Linked DNA regions of Homo sapiens: region 1 is linked to region 2. The links come from fine-mapping of genetic effects on gene expression. Tissue or cell type: whole blood. Region 2 holds a variant in brackets; the other region holds the start of a gene. All regions are shown on one strand. Distances are from middle to middle.

The links. PIP is the estimated chance that this variant, and not a neighbour inherited with it, causes the effect.
Region 1: it holds the start of TENT2, and the variant in region 2 is fine-mapped to the expression of TENT2 in whole blood (TOPMed, PIP above 0.99).

Annotation. Positions count from the first base shown.
Region 1 is chr5:79,608,665-79,616,852 of GRCh38, forward strand. TENT2 (terminal nucleotidyltransferase 2) reads left to right here and starts at 3,777. Exons shown (of 15, transcript NM_001114394.3): 1 at 3,777-4,411. LOC124901014 (a long non-coding RNA gene) reads right to left here and starts at 3,673. Exons shown (of 2, transcript XR_007058840.1): 1 at 3,478-3,673; 2 at 2,807-3,356. RefSeq lists an enhancer at 3,382-4,581.
Region 2 is chr5:79,633,513-79,641,700 of GRCh38, forward strand. TENT2 (terminal nucleotidyltransferase 2) reads left to right here. Exons shown (of 15, transcript NM_001114394.3): 5 at 7,339-7,453; 6 at 7,593-7,684. Among named protein-coding and RNA genes, the nearest start is that of TENT2, 25 kb to the left of the region's middle. The variant G/A (reference allele first, on the strand shown) is at 4,315.

The sequences.
Region 1 (8,188 bases), 25 kb before region 2:
TTTTTTTGTGGACAGAGTCTTGCCCTGTCACCCAGGCTGGAGTGCAATGGCGTGATCTCGGCTCACTGCAACCTCTGCCTCCCGGGTTCAAGTGATTCTCCTGCTTCAGCCTCCCAAGTAGCTGGGACTACAGGCGCCTGCCACCATGCCAGGCTAATTTTTGTATTTTTAGTAGAGTCGGGGTTTCACCATATTGGCCAGGCTGGTCTCGAACTACTGACCTTGTGATCCACCCACCTCGGCCTCCCAAAGTGCTGAGATTACAGGCGTGAGCCATCTTGCCCAGCCTGGATATAAATTATTTACCAGGGCCTGGCATGATGGCTCACACTTGTAATTCCGGCACTTAGAGAGTCTGAGGCAGGTGGATTGCTTGAGTCAAGGAGTTCGAGACCAGCCTGGGCAACATGGGGAAACTCCATCCTCTATAACAAATACAATAATTAATCAGGCATGGTGGTGCACACCTGTAGTCCCAGCACTAAGGAAGTTGAGGTGGGAGGATCACTTGAGCCTGGGAAGTCGAGGTAGCAGTGAGTCGTGAGCATGCCACTACACTCCAGCTCTTTTGAGACACAGCAAGACCCTATCTCAAAAAAAAAAAAAAAAAAAAAAACAACCACACACACACATTCTTATCAGATACGTGATTTGCAAATAGCTGCTTCAGTTTTTGGCTTGTCTTTCCATTCTCTTTCTGGGGCTGCAGTGACCTATCATAATGCCATCATACTCCTGGGCTCAAGTGATTCTCTGCCTCATCCTCTCAAGTAGCTGGGACTACAGGTGCATGCCACCATGCCCGCCTCAAATTTTTGATGCTGTTGTAGATGGTATTTTAAATTTCAATTTCAGATTGTTTATTGCTGGTGTACTACAAATGCCATTGACATTTGTGTATTGATTTTACGACCTGTAGTCTTGGTCATTTATTTGATCTGATAGTTTTTTGTAGATTTTGTGCCAGAGTTTTCAATAAATAAAACAAATAAAACCAGTTTTACTTCCTTCTTTGCTAATTTGAATGCCTTTTTTTTTTCCTTGCCTTATTGCACAGGCTAGAATCCCCAGTACAATATTGAACATAAGTTGTCAGAGCAGAAATCCTTGCCTTGTTCCTGATCTTAAGTTGAAAGCACTGTTCTTCACCATTAAGTGTGATGCTTTTTATAGACACTCTCTATCAAGTTGAGGAAGTTTCCTTGTAATCTTAGGAATGGATACTGGATTTTGTCCAATGCATTTGCTGCATGTATTGAGATTATCAAATGGTTTTTCTTTTTTAGTTTGTTAATATGGTAAATTACATTGCTTGATTTACCAATGCTAATTCAACCTTGCATTCCTAGGATAAGCCCCTGTTTGGTTATAATGTATTATCTTTTTTATATATTTTTATGTATTTATATATTTATATATCTTTTTTATATAATCTACTTTTTACTGCCTTGTCTCATGTAAACCTGTGTAATTTCCCATTGGGTCCACCTTAGGAAACAGTCTTTAAAGTTTTCTCCGTAAAGCAAGTACCAGTATACTCTTTTATGGTCAATACAATGCTAATTCAACCTTGCATTCCTAGGATAAGCACCTGTTTGGATATAATGTATTATCTTTTTTATATACTGTGAAATAAAAGTGACTAGAATTGTGCATATTATGTTTATGAGAGATATTGGTCCATAGTTTGCTTGTTTAATATCTAGAGTTTGGGTATTAGTGTAATGCTGGCCCCACAGAATGAGCTGGGAAGTATTCCCTCCTCTTCAATTTTTGGAGGACTTTATCTAGAATTGGAATTATGTTTTCCTTATATATACCATGTTAACACCCTACAAAAGAAAGCCTAAGTAGCTGTAATACTATCAGACAAAATATACTTCAGAGCAAAGAACATTATCAGCAAAGAGGAGGGTCATTTGTAAAGTGGATAATTTCATAATAATGAAACTTTCATAAAGGATAAATTCATACAAATAAGAGAATAACTATGTTTATGCAACTAATAGCTGAGCTGCAAAGTACATGAAGCAGAAATTGATAGAACTACAATTGAAAAAAACCAGTAATAGTCAGAAATTTCAATACTCTCAATAATTAGTAGAATAAGTAGACAGTAAATCAGAAAGGATATAGATTTGAACACTAATATCAACCAACTTGACATGATTGACATTTATAGAACACTCCATGCAACAACTGCAAAAAACACATTCATTTCAAATGCACAGTGAGTATTTACCAAGACAGACTATATACTCTGGGCCACAGAACAAGTGTCAATAAGTTTAAAATTATTAATAGTGTACGAAGTACCTTCTCTGATCACAATGGGATTAAATCAGAAATCAGTAACAGGCAGCTACCTGGAAAACTCCTCCACATTTGCAGACCAACACTTACAAAAAACCCATGGTCAAAAAAAGAAAGCAATAGGGAAATTACAAAGTATTTTGAAATGAAGGAAAATGAAAATACAATATATCAAAATATGTGGAATGTAGCTAAAACAGTATAGAGGGACACTTATCACACCAAATGCCTGTACAAACAAGAGACATCTAAAATTAATGGTCATCAGTTTCTGAGTTAAGAAACTAGAGAAACAAAACAAGAAATTTAAAAATTAAAAAATAGCAGAGTAAAGGAAACAATAAACATAAGAGCAGAAATCAATAAAATAGAAAACAGAAAACCAGTAGAGAAAATCCAAGAAAGCAAAAACGGGCTTTGAGATTTGAGATCCGTAAACCGAGAAGCCCCTCACCAGATCGATCAGAAAAAAAGATGACACACAAATTACCAATTTCAGAACCTGAGGGGTCAGATTTTATAGACATTAAGTGGACAATAAAGGAATACAGCTAACAGATTTGCATTATTAAACAATTTAGACATTTCTACAAATTATTAAAGCTCACTCAAGAGGCGATATCAATAAATATTTGTTGAATTAGTGAATACCAGCTATTACTATGGGCAAGGCGCTAAGTCCAGGCTTTAGAGAGAAAGAAAGCATTTTTTTTTTTTTTTTTTTTTGAGACAAAGTCTTGCTCTGTCGCCCAGGCTGGAGTGCTGTGGCACGATCTCGGCTCACTGCAACCTCCGCCTCCCGGGTTCAAGCGATTCGCCAGCCTCAGCCTCTTGAGTAGCGGGGTTACAGGCGCACGCCACCAAGCTCGGCTAATTTTTGTATTTTTAGTAAAGATGGGGTTTCACCATGTTGGCCAGGCTGGTCTCGAACTCCTGACCTCGTGATCCGCCCGCCTCAGCCTCCCAAAGTGCTAGGATTACAGGGGTGAGCCACCGCGTCCGGCCAAAGAAAGCATTTTCCTTCCAAAGAAGCTCTCAGGTTACTGGAGGGGCAAAAGAACAGATAAAGTTTAATGTTGCTCCGGGGGAGAAGATTAGGGGAACACTGGTTAAAGAAAGGCTTCTCTGGGGACAAGTCACTCGGCCAACACACGAAGGACCCACAGAAAACGTCTGTTACAGCTAGAACGGCTGCACGTGAGTTCAGGCAAGGGGCCCAGAAGTGGCCCTCCGGCGACTGCCTGCTCCACCCCTCTTAGTGCAGTCCTAACCCTTTCCCAACTTGTGCTGGCAGCAGTTAAGAAACTCCTTTCAAATCCGGCTGTCTTGCGCCTGCGCATTCAAGCAAAGCGCTCATAGGCGGGGTGGGGGGGGTGGGGGGGGTTGGGGGGTGGGGGGGGTTGGGGGGTGGGAGGGAGGCGGCCACCGGAAGTGTGACCTTTCGCTCCCCGCTGCCTATTCTCATCCGGGGTCACGTCGGTCTTCCGGGTGTCTTTGACAGGGTTTTCTACGCCGCTTTTTCGGCGACTTTTTGCTCTTCCGCTTTTTGCCACCGCCCCCAACCTTCTATATCCTTGCAGCCCCTACCTTTTCTTGTGTTGCTCCTCCCCTGGCAGCCGTGAGGGGGGTTAGATCTCAGCCGGAGCCGGAGCTGGGCCTAGCTGTCCCACGGGCCACCACTACCTCCTTTGGTTCGGGAGAAAGCTACGACCAAGTACGCCCAGCTCGGGCCTTAGAACTTCTGAACGGGCAGTGCGGGTAGGCCCTGCTTAGCCCTTCCCGGAGGACACCTGTGAGTTTAGGGGGTTTCGGAGAGGAACGCAGCAGTGTAGGCCCAGGTCGGCGGCGGGGCACGGGAAACTTTTCCGAAACGGTAGCGTTTTGTTTTGCGTGGGAGGTTCCAGCAGTATCTCTTGGTTATTCCAAATTTATGGGCGGCATCTGGGCTGCTGTACATTTTGAAGAATCTTAGGACCGCTTACTTTGCTTACTCGTTTTCTATTCCTCGCGTACTGCCTCGTCCACCACTCCAGGACCAAAAGAGGAAGATAGTCTTGGGACCCTTGCATGGTGTTTCAAAGGGTGGTGAAGAACTAAGGTACGTAGCTGGATTAATTAAAAAATTTAAAAGGCATTTATCTTTTAAGCCTTAATTAAATGGCATGAAATTGCTTCAGCTTTTCACTTTATAGGAAAATGCACAGGTTAAGACTGTTGTGTGCGTTTCTTTTCTTGTTCAGCCTTTGTAGAAAAGCTCTTCGTCTCTCAAGGTGAGAACACGAAAGGCTTATATGTCTCAAAACTTATGGATTCTCTAAATTACTTGTCTTATCTCTTTCAACTCTTTGTTTAAAGTAGCAGATATTTTTCATTAGGGTGAACAGAGAAGAAACAAAGGGAAACTGTAAAACACAAGCTAAATAACACATGTGCAGTGTATGATTTTGTGAAGAAAGAGATTGTAACTGATTACTAAATCTGTGTTTTTATATTACAGGTAACATAGTAACTTTTGTAAATATCTTCATATTGTATGGTTCAGTACCACCAGGCTTCTAACACGTACTGATTAACAGCCATAAGGCTATTAATTTATACTGATTAATAGCCAGTAATAGTGACGTTACTTTGTTGGTGTGAATAGCCCTAATTATGTCTGTTCTGGAAATGTCCTGTAACAGGTTCCATGTGAAATAGGCCGTTTATGAGTTGTTTAAGAAATGCCCATTTGGAGCCATGTGACTAGATTATTTTTTTGAACACTTGGGTGTAATTTAATTCTTAACCAAAAGGAATATCCTGTTCAAAACCTGGAAGTAGTTTTCACAGTGGGTTGGCAGGATTTAGGAACTGGATTTTTCGTATTGTGGAGAAAAGTGGGTTTGAGATATCAAAGGTATTTGGACAAAATGGACAGTATCTTGGTTTAGCCAGTAAATTTCTGGTTTTCATTCTAGGTATATTCTGCTTTCTAAAGAATCCTGATGAAGGAATTATATATAACCTTGAGTGTTCTCTAATTTGTTGGAGGAGAGGTCAAGTTGAGGACAGAAATTCCAGGTTGCAAATTCCAGGACCAAATACTTTATAACTAGAAATTACTAGGAATTAATCTTTTTTTTTTTTTTTTTTTTTTTTTTTGCAAGACGGAATCTTGATCTTGTCACCCAGGCTACAGTGCAATGGCACTATCTTGGCTCACTGCAGCCTCTGCCTCCTGGGTTCAAGCGATCTCCTGCCTCAGCCTGCCGAGTAGCTGGGATTACAGGCACGTGCCACTATGCTTGGCTAATTTTTGTATTTTTAGTAGAGGCAGGGTTTCACCATGTTGGCCAGGCTGGTCTCCAACTCCTGACCTCAGGTGATCCATCCGCCTCGGCCTCCCAAAGTGCTGGGATTACAGGCGTGAGCCACTGTGCCCGGCCGAATTAATCTACTCTTTTACTACCTTGTCTCATGTAAACCTGTGTAATTTCCCATTGGGTCCACCTTAGGAAACCGTCTTTAAGGTTTTCTCCGTAAAGAAAGTACCAGTATACTCTTTCATGGTCAAGTACAGATTGTGGAACTGATAACTTTTAAGGTAAGGAAAATTGGATATTGCCAATATCTGGATTTTATGTATCTATCATAAAATTTGTCACATAGGAGATGGTAGAAGACCATAGTTAATGTGGAGTAACGTTTTATATAGCTAATCTCTACTTAAGAAACCTTTCATTCAGAGTATGAAGAAAATGATTTAAAATTTTGTGGAGGTCCCCTTATTTCTGTTACAGTAATAGTTTTACTGTATTTTGTGAAACTCTACAGTCTCTTTAAAAAAATGATTATGTTGTTTATGATAATTGTTTTGATGTCATTTTTATTTTCATCAAAATCAATGTGAAATGTATTAGAAAAAGGCATAGAAATTCATAGGCGTTTCATTTACTTCCTCAACTCTAGATGTCTTTCAGAATACCTATATTGGTGAGCATAGAACGAATGCGTCGGAATGATTTTCCTCTACTTGAAGCCTACCTTCTTTAAAAAGAGCCTGACTTGAGGGCCAAAATTCATACTGAGGAGAGGCTGACAGATCCTTTGTTTTGCAGGGGCTCCAGAGCTTGATATATTTCTGGGAATTTGGAATATGCTAAACTAGATTTCTGCCCTAGACTAAACATCTGGCTGTGGACTCAATCTAAGTTTTTAAGCTGGGGATAATTTGGTCATTAACTTGGTAGAGTAGTTCTGAGCCACAAGTCATCTTTAGACTTAGTTTGGATTTGGCTGTGTAAGAGATGAAAACAAGGTGAGGCCTGGGCTCTTGATGTCATTTTGCATCTTCAAATCTTAATATACATGGACCTTATTCAGTTATAGAGGAAAAACAGCATATTTTTTATAGGTATAAACAAAAGTATCTAGGCTTTTTGCTATGAACCGATTTAAATAAACCTGAAAGTACAAGATTTTAATTCTAGTTTTTCTGAATACATATTTCTTCCATTCACTAGATTTGTAGTGTCTATTCCAACAAAATGAACTATCAAGCAAAATTTGTTACAGTGAATTGTATTTAATATCATTTTCTCATAAATCCTATGAAGTAGGATCCTATGTTTTATGGGAAATTAGGTTAGGGAACCAGAGTAAAAAAGGCCAAGAAGGAGTGTGAGCCTGAGCAAAGGGTGAAAAGTGTTCGTTGCCAGTCTTGAATCTGGCAATCCAAGATTTTTCTTTTTTCTTTTTTTTTTTTGTTTTTGAGACAGGGTCTTGCTCTGTTGACCAGGCTGGAGTGCAGTGGCACAGTCTCCTCGGCTCACTCCAACCTCCGTCTCCCTGGCTCAAGCGATCCTCCCACCCCAGCCTCCAGAGTAGCTGGGACTTCAGATGCAGACCACCACACCTGGCTAATTTTTGTTGTGTGTTTGTTTTTTTTTTGAGACGAAGTCTCGTTTTTTCGCCCAGGCTGGAGTGCAGTGGTGCGATCTCTGCTCACTGTAACCTCTGCTTGCCAGGTTCAAGCGATTCCCCTGCCTCAGCCTCCCAAGTAGCTGGGATTACAGGTGTCCACCACCACGCTAGCTAATTTTGTATTTTTAGTAGAGACGGGATTTTGCCGTGTTGGCCAGGCTGGTCTCGAACTCCTGACCTCAGGTGATCTGCCCACCTCGGCCTCCCAGAGTGTTGGGATTATAGGCATGAGCCATTGCACCCGGCCTAATTTTTTTTTTTTTTTTTTTTTTTTTTGAGATGGAGTTTTGTTCTTGTTGCCCAGGCTGGAGTGCAATTGCGCGATCTTGGCTCACTGCAACCTCCGCCTCCCAGGTACAAGCGATTCTCCTGTCCCAGCCTCCCAAGTAGCTGGGATTACAGGCATGTGCTACCACGCCTGGCTGATTTTTTTTGTATTTAGTAGGGATTTCACCATGTTAGTCAGGCTGGTCTTGAACTCCTGACCTTAGGTGATCCATCTGCTTCGGCCTCCCAAAGTGCTGGGATTATAGGCGTGCAGCCTAATTTTGTATTTGTTGTAGAGATGGGGTTTTACCGTGTTGCCCAGGCTGGTCTTTAACTCCTGGGCTCAAACAATCTGCCTGCCTCAGCCTCCCAAGGGATTACAGGCATGAGCAACTGCCCAGCCCAGGATTATTGTATGTATTTTTGCTAGGGGATTCCCTGGAATGCTGCTTAGTTCAAGATATTTCCATTTCCTCTGAAGAAGCTAGGGTGTACAGGTGAGGAAATATGACAGGATTATTTTCTTTTTTAAAAATCTCTTGTAAAAAGACATAAGGGTCTGCTAAAGAAAGTTGACAGACTCTTGTTTTCTGGAGGTTAACCTTGTCTCTGGTCCAAATTAGAGTCAGGCATTTAGGATGAGGTC
Region 2 (8,188 bases):
TCACTGCAATCTCCGTCTCCTGGGTTCAAACGGTTCTGGGATTACAGGCATGCGCCACCATGCCCGGCTAATTTTGTGTTTTTAGTAGAGACGGGGTTTCTCCATGTTGGTCAGGCTGGTCTCGAACTGCCAACCTCAGGTGATCCACCCACCTTAGTCTCCCAAAGTGCTGGAATTACAGGCATGAGCCACTGTGCCAGGCTAAAAAGTTTTTTTTTTTTTTTTTTCCACTTTCTTTTACTCAAGGGCCCAGCTATCAGGGACAGGTGGTGAACTGCTGAGTATACCATGTGAAGGTTATACAGTGTTAAATACCATGTGAGAGCTTTATATATTGGTACATATAAAAACTTTTCTGGGGCTGGGTGCAGTGGCTCACGCCTGTAATCCCAGCACTTTGGGAGGCCGAGGCGGGCAGATCACGAGGTCAGGAGATCGAGACCATCCTGGCTAACATGGTGAAACCCCGTCTCTACTAAAAATACAAAAAAAAAAAAAAAAAAAAAATTAGCTGGACCTGGTGGCGGACGCCTATAGTCCCAGCTACTCGGGAGAATGGCATGAACCTGGAAGGCGGAGCTTGCAGTGAGCCGAATCGTGCCACTGCACTCCAGCCTGGGCAACAGAGTGAGACTCCGTCTCAAAAAAAAAAAAAAAAAAACTTTCTGAATCCCAGCCAGCACTTCACGTGTCCTTATGGCTTGTGTTGACTTCAGACAATGGCAATTTTATTGGTATTTAATTTGACCTTGACTTTGAGGACAAGTTACAATATTTTTTAGGAAAAATGAACATTCACATTTGGAAGAAATATTTATTTTTATTTATTTATTTTATTTTTTGAGATGGAGTCTTGCTCTGTTGCCCAGGCTAGAGTGCAGTGGTGTGGTCTTGACTCACTGCAACCTCTGCCTCCCAGGTTCAAGTGATTCTCCGGCCTCAGCCTCTCAAGTAGCTTGGACTACAGGCACCTGTCACCATGACTGGCTGATTTTTTTGTATTTTTAGTAGAGATGGGGTTTCATCATCTTGGTCAGGCTGGTCTCGAACTCCTGACCTCAAGTGATCTGCCCGCCTTGGCCTCCCAGAGTGCTGGGATTTCAGATGTGAGCCACTGCGCCTGGCCAGAAATATTTATTTTAATATTTTAGGCTACGTATAAGTAAATTTTTTGTGTAGTGAGAAATAGACTAATTAATTTTATAGTGATAGATCTTGGTAGATAGCCTAAGCAGTTAATTTTATAATGATAGATCTTGGTAGGTAGCCTAAGCAGATAATATTGTAGTGATTTAGACAAGTTTAAGAATAATCCACTTTATATATATGTTGTTGGAGGGATTTTTTTTTTTTTGAGATGGGGTCTTACTAAGTTACCCAGGCTATTCTTGAACTCCTGGGCTCAAGCTATGTTGCTGCCTCAGCCTCCTCAGTAGCTGATACTACCGGCATTTGCCACTGTACCTGGCTTGGAATAGTTTTTTTAAACTAAAAATTAGGAAAAATTTACCCCAGAATTAAAGAATATTTTTGGAGTGCCATTATGCATGGTCAGCTTGTTATTACATATATGATCTAAATCGTATATGATTTTTAGCCAAGGATATTTCATATTATACATTCCTCCTCTCTATTTTTTTAAGAACTATAACAACAGTGAGCCATCTCCTGGAATATTTCTCTAAATTAAAGCACCAGAAATGTTGTTTCAACATATATGTGCATTTCTCTTTTTGTCTCATCTGAACTCTCAATGTTTGTTCTAGGGTAAAGTAATATGATTTGATAATGTGAATCCCCAAGTTAATGGGTAGATAATGACGAAAATTCTTTCACATAAAAACTCATTAAATCTCCATTATAGTAGTCCTTGGGAAAGAAAAAGTGTTTCCATGCATGTAAAAAATGGAGAGGAACAAGAATATGGAATTTCATATTTTCCAGTCATTGTAAATTTTTTAACATGTGACTGTTTCTACATTAACAAGGTCATTCAGATGAAAGAACTTTATAAATATAATAACATTTCACTTGGGCATTGTGAAGGAATTTTTTTTTTGGAGACAGAGTCTTGCTCTGTTGCCCAGGCTGGAGTGCAGTTGCGCGATCTCGGCTCATTGCAACCTCTGCCTCCAGGGTTCAAGCGATTCTCCTGCCTCAGCCTCCGGAGTAGCTGAGACTACAGGTGCATGCCACCACACCTGGCTAATTTTTTGTATTTTAGTAGAGACAGGGTTTAACCGTTGTTGCTCAGGCTGGTCTTGAACTCCTGAGCTCCGGCAGTCCGCCCACCTTGGCCTCCCAAAGTGCTAGGATTACAGGCGTGAGCTACCTTGCCCAGCCAAGAAATTTATTTTGCTATTCAACAAATACTGAGTACCTACGGTGAATTCTAGGATTATGTTGATCTGATCTGCCTGATTCTCTACATCAGGGGTTGGCAGAAGGGCCAGATAGTAAATATTTAGGCACGTGGGCTATGTAGGTCCTCTGTTGCATATTCTTTTTTCTTTTCTTTTTAACAATGACTAAAAGTAGAAATTATTTAGCTTGCTGCCTATACTTGGCCTAAATAGTTCGCCAACCCTGCTCTAGGTCAGTAAAACTTAATCCTTCAAGTATCATGTAAAATTTTATGTTAGCCACTTTTACTGGAGATCTTTTTCACATTTGTTACAAACTTGGACACTTTTCTTTTTAGCTTTTTATTATGGAAAATATCAAACCATATACTAGAGAGAAAAACGTATCATAAATCCTTATGTTGCCCACTTTAACAATTGCCAACATATGACCATAACAATTAACAACATATGACTAATCTTATTTCACCTTTACCTCCCTCCCTCATTAGTTTGAATCAGATTGCAGTTATTTTATTTGTAAATATTTCAGTATTCTGATATTCAGTTGATCTTTTTTGTTTATCCTTCTGCCAGGGCCATACTATCTTGATTACTGTAGTGTTATATTAAGTATAGAAGTCAGGTAGGTTAAATTCCCCAATTTTTTTCTCAGCTATTCTTGGACTTTTGCCTAAGTCAAATTTAAAATTCTTCTGTCAGTTTCTAGAAAGAAGCCTTCTGGGCTTTTGATTTCTTTTTCATTTCTTGTGAAACAAATATCAGATGGGCTTTTGATTTTGATTGCATTGAATCTAAAGGTCAATTCTGGGAGAATTGACATCCTTGACAATAGTCTTTTGATCCATGAATGTGGTGTATCTCTCCCTTTATTTAGGTCTTTAGGTTCTCTCAATATTTTCTAGTTTTCAGTATACAAATCCTGCACATCTCTTGGTACATAGATTTCTAAATATTTCATGCTTTTTGCTGCTATTGTGAAGTTCTTAAAAAGTAAATTTTTAATTGTTTGTTGATAGTATGTATGCTTTAAGTAGTGAATTATCTTTTTAGAAAATTAAAACATGAGAGAAAAGGCCTTGGTTTTTTATATTATGTTAAAAATATTAGTTTTGTTTACACATTCTTCTGGTGTGCTTTATTGTCTGTAGAAATGTTACCCTGCAGCCTGGGCAAAATAGTGAGAAACTATCTCTCAAGAAAAAAAAATTAACCAGATGTGGTGCTGCACACCTTTAGTCCCAGCTACTTGCAGGGCTGAGATGGGAGGATTGCTTGACAGGAGGTCAAGACAGCAGTGAGCTGTGATTGCGACATTGCACTCTAGTCTGGGAACACAGTGAGACCATGTATCAAAAAAAAAAAATTGTTGCTCAGTTTATTCTCATTTTTCTTACAAATACTTTGTATGGGAATTGATTAGAATACTTTCAGGCGTTATTTCTTCAATTTTTTTTCTGTCCTTTCCCATGCTTACCTCTTTCGAGATTCCATTTCTTTCCTCCTGTTATTTGTCTTTGAGATGGCTTTTTCTGTACTACTTTCATTTTATTTTATTTCAGTGTTTTTGAGACAAGGTCTCCCTCTGTTGCCCAGGCTGGAGTACAGTGGTGTGATCATGGCTCACTGCAACCTCGACCTCCCAGGCTCAAGCGATCCTCCTGCTTCAGCCTCCCTAGTAGCTGAGACGACAGGCACGCATCACCATGTCCAGCTAATTTTTAAATTTTTTGTAGAAGGGAGGTTTTGCCATGTTACCAAGGCTTGTCTCGGATTCCTGGGCTTAAGCAATGCACCTGCCTTGGCCTCCCAAAGTGCTGGGATTATTGGTGTGCTCAGCTACCATGCCCAGCCGTGTGCTACTTTTATGTGGAGAGGGTTGAGCAGGCTAGCTTTGTGGCTCTAGGACTTCTCCTCTTTTGCTTTTTTTTTTTTTTTTTGTGACGGAGTC[G/A]CATTTTGTCACCCAGGCTAGAGTGCAGTGGCATGATCTCAGCTCACTGCAACCTCTGCCTTCCGGGTTCAGGTGATTCTCTTGCCTCAGCCTCCCAAATAGCTGGGACTACAGGCACGTGCCACTGTTCCCGGCTAATTTTTTTGTATTTTTATTAGAGATGGGATTTCACCATGTTGTCCAGGATGGTCTTGATCTCTTGACCTCGTGATCTGCCTGCATTGGCCTCCCAAAGTGCTGGGATTACAGGCATGAGCCACCACGCCCAGCCTTCTTCTGTTCTTACATAGTATTCAGAAATATACTTCCTTAGTGCCTTTGCTTTTTTCCTTTCCCACTTTTATCTAGAGTAGAATTTTTTACCCTCTGTACTATTGGCATTTTGGGCCAGATAATCTTTGCTGTGGTAGAGTTGTCCTCTGCATTGTAGGATGTTCGGTGACATCCTGGCGTCTACCTACTAGATGCCAGGGACCTTTCACCTGCCCTGCCTGGTCCTGTTATAATAAAAAATGTTTTCATATTCATATGTCCACTGAGAGTCAGAATCATTTTACACCTTTCCTTTTCTCCTGATGGCTCTGTACTGTGCAGTTTAGGTTTCTCTTCCTGGCAGTTTCTGCTGTTGCTTTTTCTTGGAAGGGAACCTCATTTTGTTTGGAGGTCTCTGATCTTTCTGTGGTCCCCTTGCATTTACCTATGAATTGTAGCCTATGAAGCTGCTTGCCTATTTTGGTTGTGGTACATTGATGTGGGCTGCTGAATTTGGTGAGTGAGGGGGAGAAGGTATTACCTATAAGCAATTTGATTTCTGCATGTTCTGCTTTTAAGACTGTTTCAAATCCCATTCCCTTTTTTATTGTGTCTGATACCATGTGAATCTTGCTGCTGTTGGTATTTGTCCCACTCCTGAGTATTCATGATGAATACCCGGTCAGTCAATTGTGTTTTATTTTGTGGCCACATTTTGGTTTGGTTTGATCTCTTTGATTTATTCTCCTAGTTGCTCTGTCTTTTGTGGGGTGAGTATTCAGAGATTTAAAAAAATGTTATGCTTCTTTCATTGCCAAATTGCCCAGAATGCCTCTGCCTTCTTAAAATGAGGATTCTAAATATGTGAAAGACAACATTTTACGTGATGGGTGATACTTTTGCCTCATTATGGACTATAAGGCAGTCCTAGAGAGGGAGAGATTAAAAATACAGGAGCAGGACTGAAATACTGGTAGACGTGTTTGTGCCCTTAAGGTGACCAGAAGGCTTGAATACAAAATTATTGGTAGAGAGATTAGCTTTGAACAGGGGAAAAGGACGCCTTTTTTTTTTTCCCCAGATATGTTCATTTTTAGGTCTGTGGTTAAGAGGCTGAGGAATATCACATTTGGTATTCTCAATTTTCTTAGTAAACTTTAATTTAACTGTATTTGCTAGAGAAAGGGAGATAAGTTTAGAGGGCTTGAAAAAGGTAGTAAACATTTTGGAATGGTATGAAAAACAGAAGTGATATCTAACCAAAGACTTGGAAGTAATTGCTAAGTGATGCTAAGGGCCAACCTAAGACTATAAACTTGAAATACTCCAATTTTATGATTTTTAATTTTTTTTTCAGTTTTGTTTCTTAGCAACTTAGATGTAAGAGCAGTGAAGGTGGTTTTTTTTTTTTATATTGACCTAAGATTAGGGTTTTGTAGGACAAGTATTAGAACATGACAAGGAGATAATGTTGTTGAGGCACGATAAGAGAGTGGTTCAAGGGATGCACTGTGTAGTATAGACTGCATAGGGAAAGAAATAACACCATTTTTATGCTGATGGCTTGGGAGAAAATGGAGGATTCAAGGGAATCTAGATCTCTTGTGGTTCTAGAGCAGGTATGAGGAGAGTGAGAAAGTGTGAACTGGATAGAAGATTGAAGCCAAGATATTATATTGGAATTTAAAATTTCAGAGCTAGAGCAGTTCCAGTTTATTGTAAAGACCACATTATAGGAGTGTATACTGATGAAGAATACTGGAGGAAATAAAAGTCCGGAAAGGGAGTATGTTGTGATATGTAGCCCATTTCAGATAGGGAAATCACCTATGTTGATGGCAAGAGTTGGGCTGGAGGGAAAAGTGTGAACCAGATCAGTAGATAAAAGGGTGGTAGGGCCGGGTGTGATGGCTCACACCTGTAATCCCAGCACTTTGGGAGGCTGAGGCAGGCAGATCACTTGAGGTCAGGGGTTCGAGAGCAGCCTGGGCAGCATGGCAAAACCCTGTCTCTACAAAGATTGAAAAATTAGCTGGGTGTGGTGGCACATGCCTGTATTCTCAGCTACTTGGGACGCTGAGGCAGGAGAACCGCTTGAACCCAGGAGGCTGAGGTTGCAGTGAGCCGAGATCGCACCACTGCATTCCAGCCTAGGTGACAGAGTAAGACTCCGTCTCAAAAAAAAAAAAAAAAGGTGGTAAGTCGATGGCAACATGAAGTTAGGGTTTAGGGCATTGTTAGAAGAATGGGATGGAGGGTGGTTTGCATGAGCCTGGAAGACCGGGGACTGGTGACATCTCTTATATTTGGTATTTGTGGGTGTGAATACTAGGGATTGGGCAAACTTCTTTAAAAAGCCAGATAGTAAATACTTCAGGCTTTGCCACTCACATATTGTTTGTTGCATATTTTTATTTGTTTGTTTTCATAATCCTTTAAAAATATAAAAAAATTCTTTTCTCAGGGGCCATACTAATAAAGTGAGCAAGTGTTAAACAGTTTGCTGACCCATGGATTATTTTTATTACGAAGTATCTGTGACTGTACTTTTCTGTGACTTGTATATTTTACTTTGTAAAATTTATGTGTGGTTTTTCAGACCATTCTCTTCCTGTACTTGAGTAATAGTAGCTTTGTTTTGGGAAATATTAAGAAGATAATACATACTCCCTTTTAAAATAGTGTCAGTATAATTGATTTATGCTTCTCCATATAGCAATTACTTTTACATTGCTGAACAAAACTTTTACTTTTTTTTGCGGTGGATTCAAGTTGAGTCAGCAGATACTGGAGTTATTTGAAACATGTCAGCAGCAAATAAGTGATTTAAAGAAGAAAGAACTCTGTCGAACACAGCTGCAGAGAGAAATTCAGCTGTTATTTCCACGTATGTTTCCCTATTTTGCATGTCCTTTAGGTATATGCATTCCTATTTTAAATTTTATCTTTTTTTTTTTTAATAGGCACAGAACCATGCACCTACTTTAGATTTTAAATACTCTTATTACTTTCTTCTGTTTCTTTAGAAAGCAGACTTTTTTTGGTTGGGTCCTCTTTAAATGGATTTGGTACCCGGAGCAGTGATGGTGATTTATGCCTAGTTGTTAAGGAAGAACCAGTAAGTAAGGAAACATTTATTCCAAGTGTGTTTCTCATGTTAATGAGTTAAGAAATTTTACATAAAAGTCATTGAGGGAAAAAACTTGCTTTGTTGTGATTACTTCTTTGAATTTTGTTTACCATAATTGCAGGAAACCTAGGTAATTTTTTATTTTTAAGGCATGTGCACAATAAGCATAATAGGAAGTATAGCATTAATTTAATTCTAAGTTTTTAAAGTGAGATGGCTTCACTATGTGTTTTTTTTTTTTTCAAGAGCTCTACCTCTGTTTTGAAATGTCATTAGTTTGGATATGTTACCAGGATGCAGCAAAGAAGAGTATGTGGCAATATTATCTTCTTGATGTATTTCCTTTCCATTTGAATTCTCACTGATTCTATTTTTAATCTTTACTTTTTTTCTCTTTGAAAATGCTTATTAAGGGAAAATAGATTTCACTAAAATTTAAAATAAGACTCGTGTTTATTAAATTTAAAATATTTTTCTCTATGAATGACATTT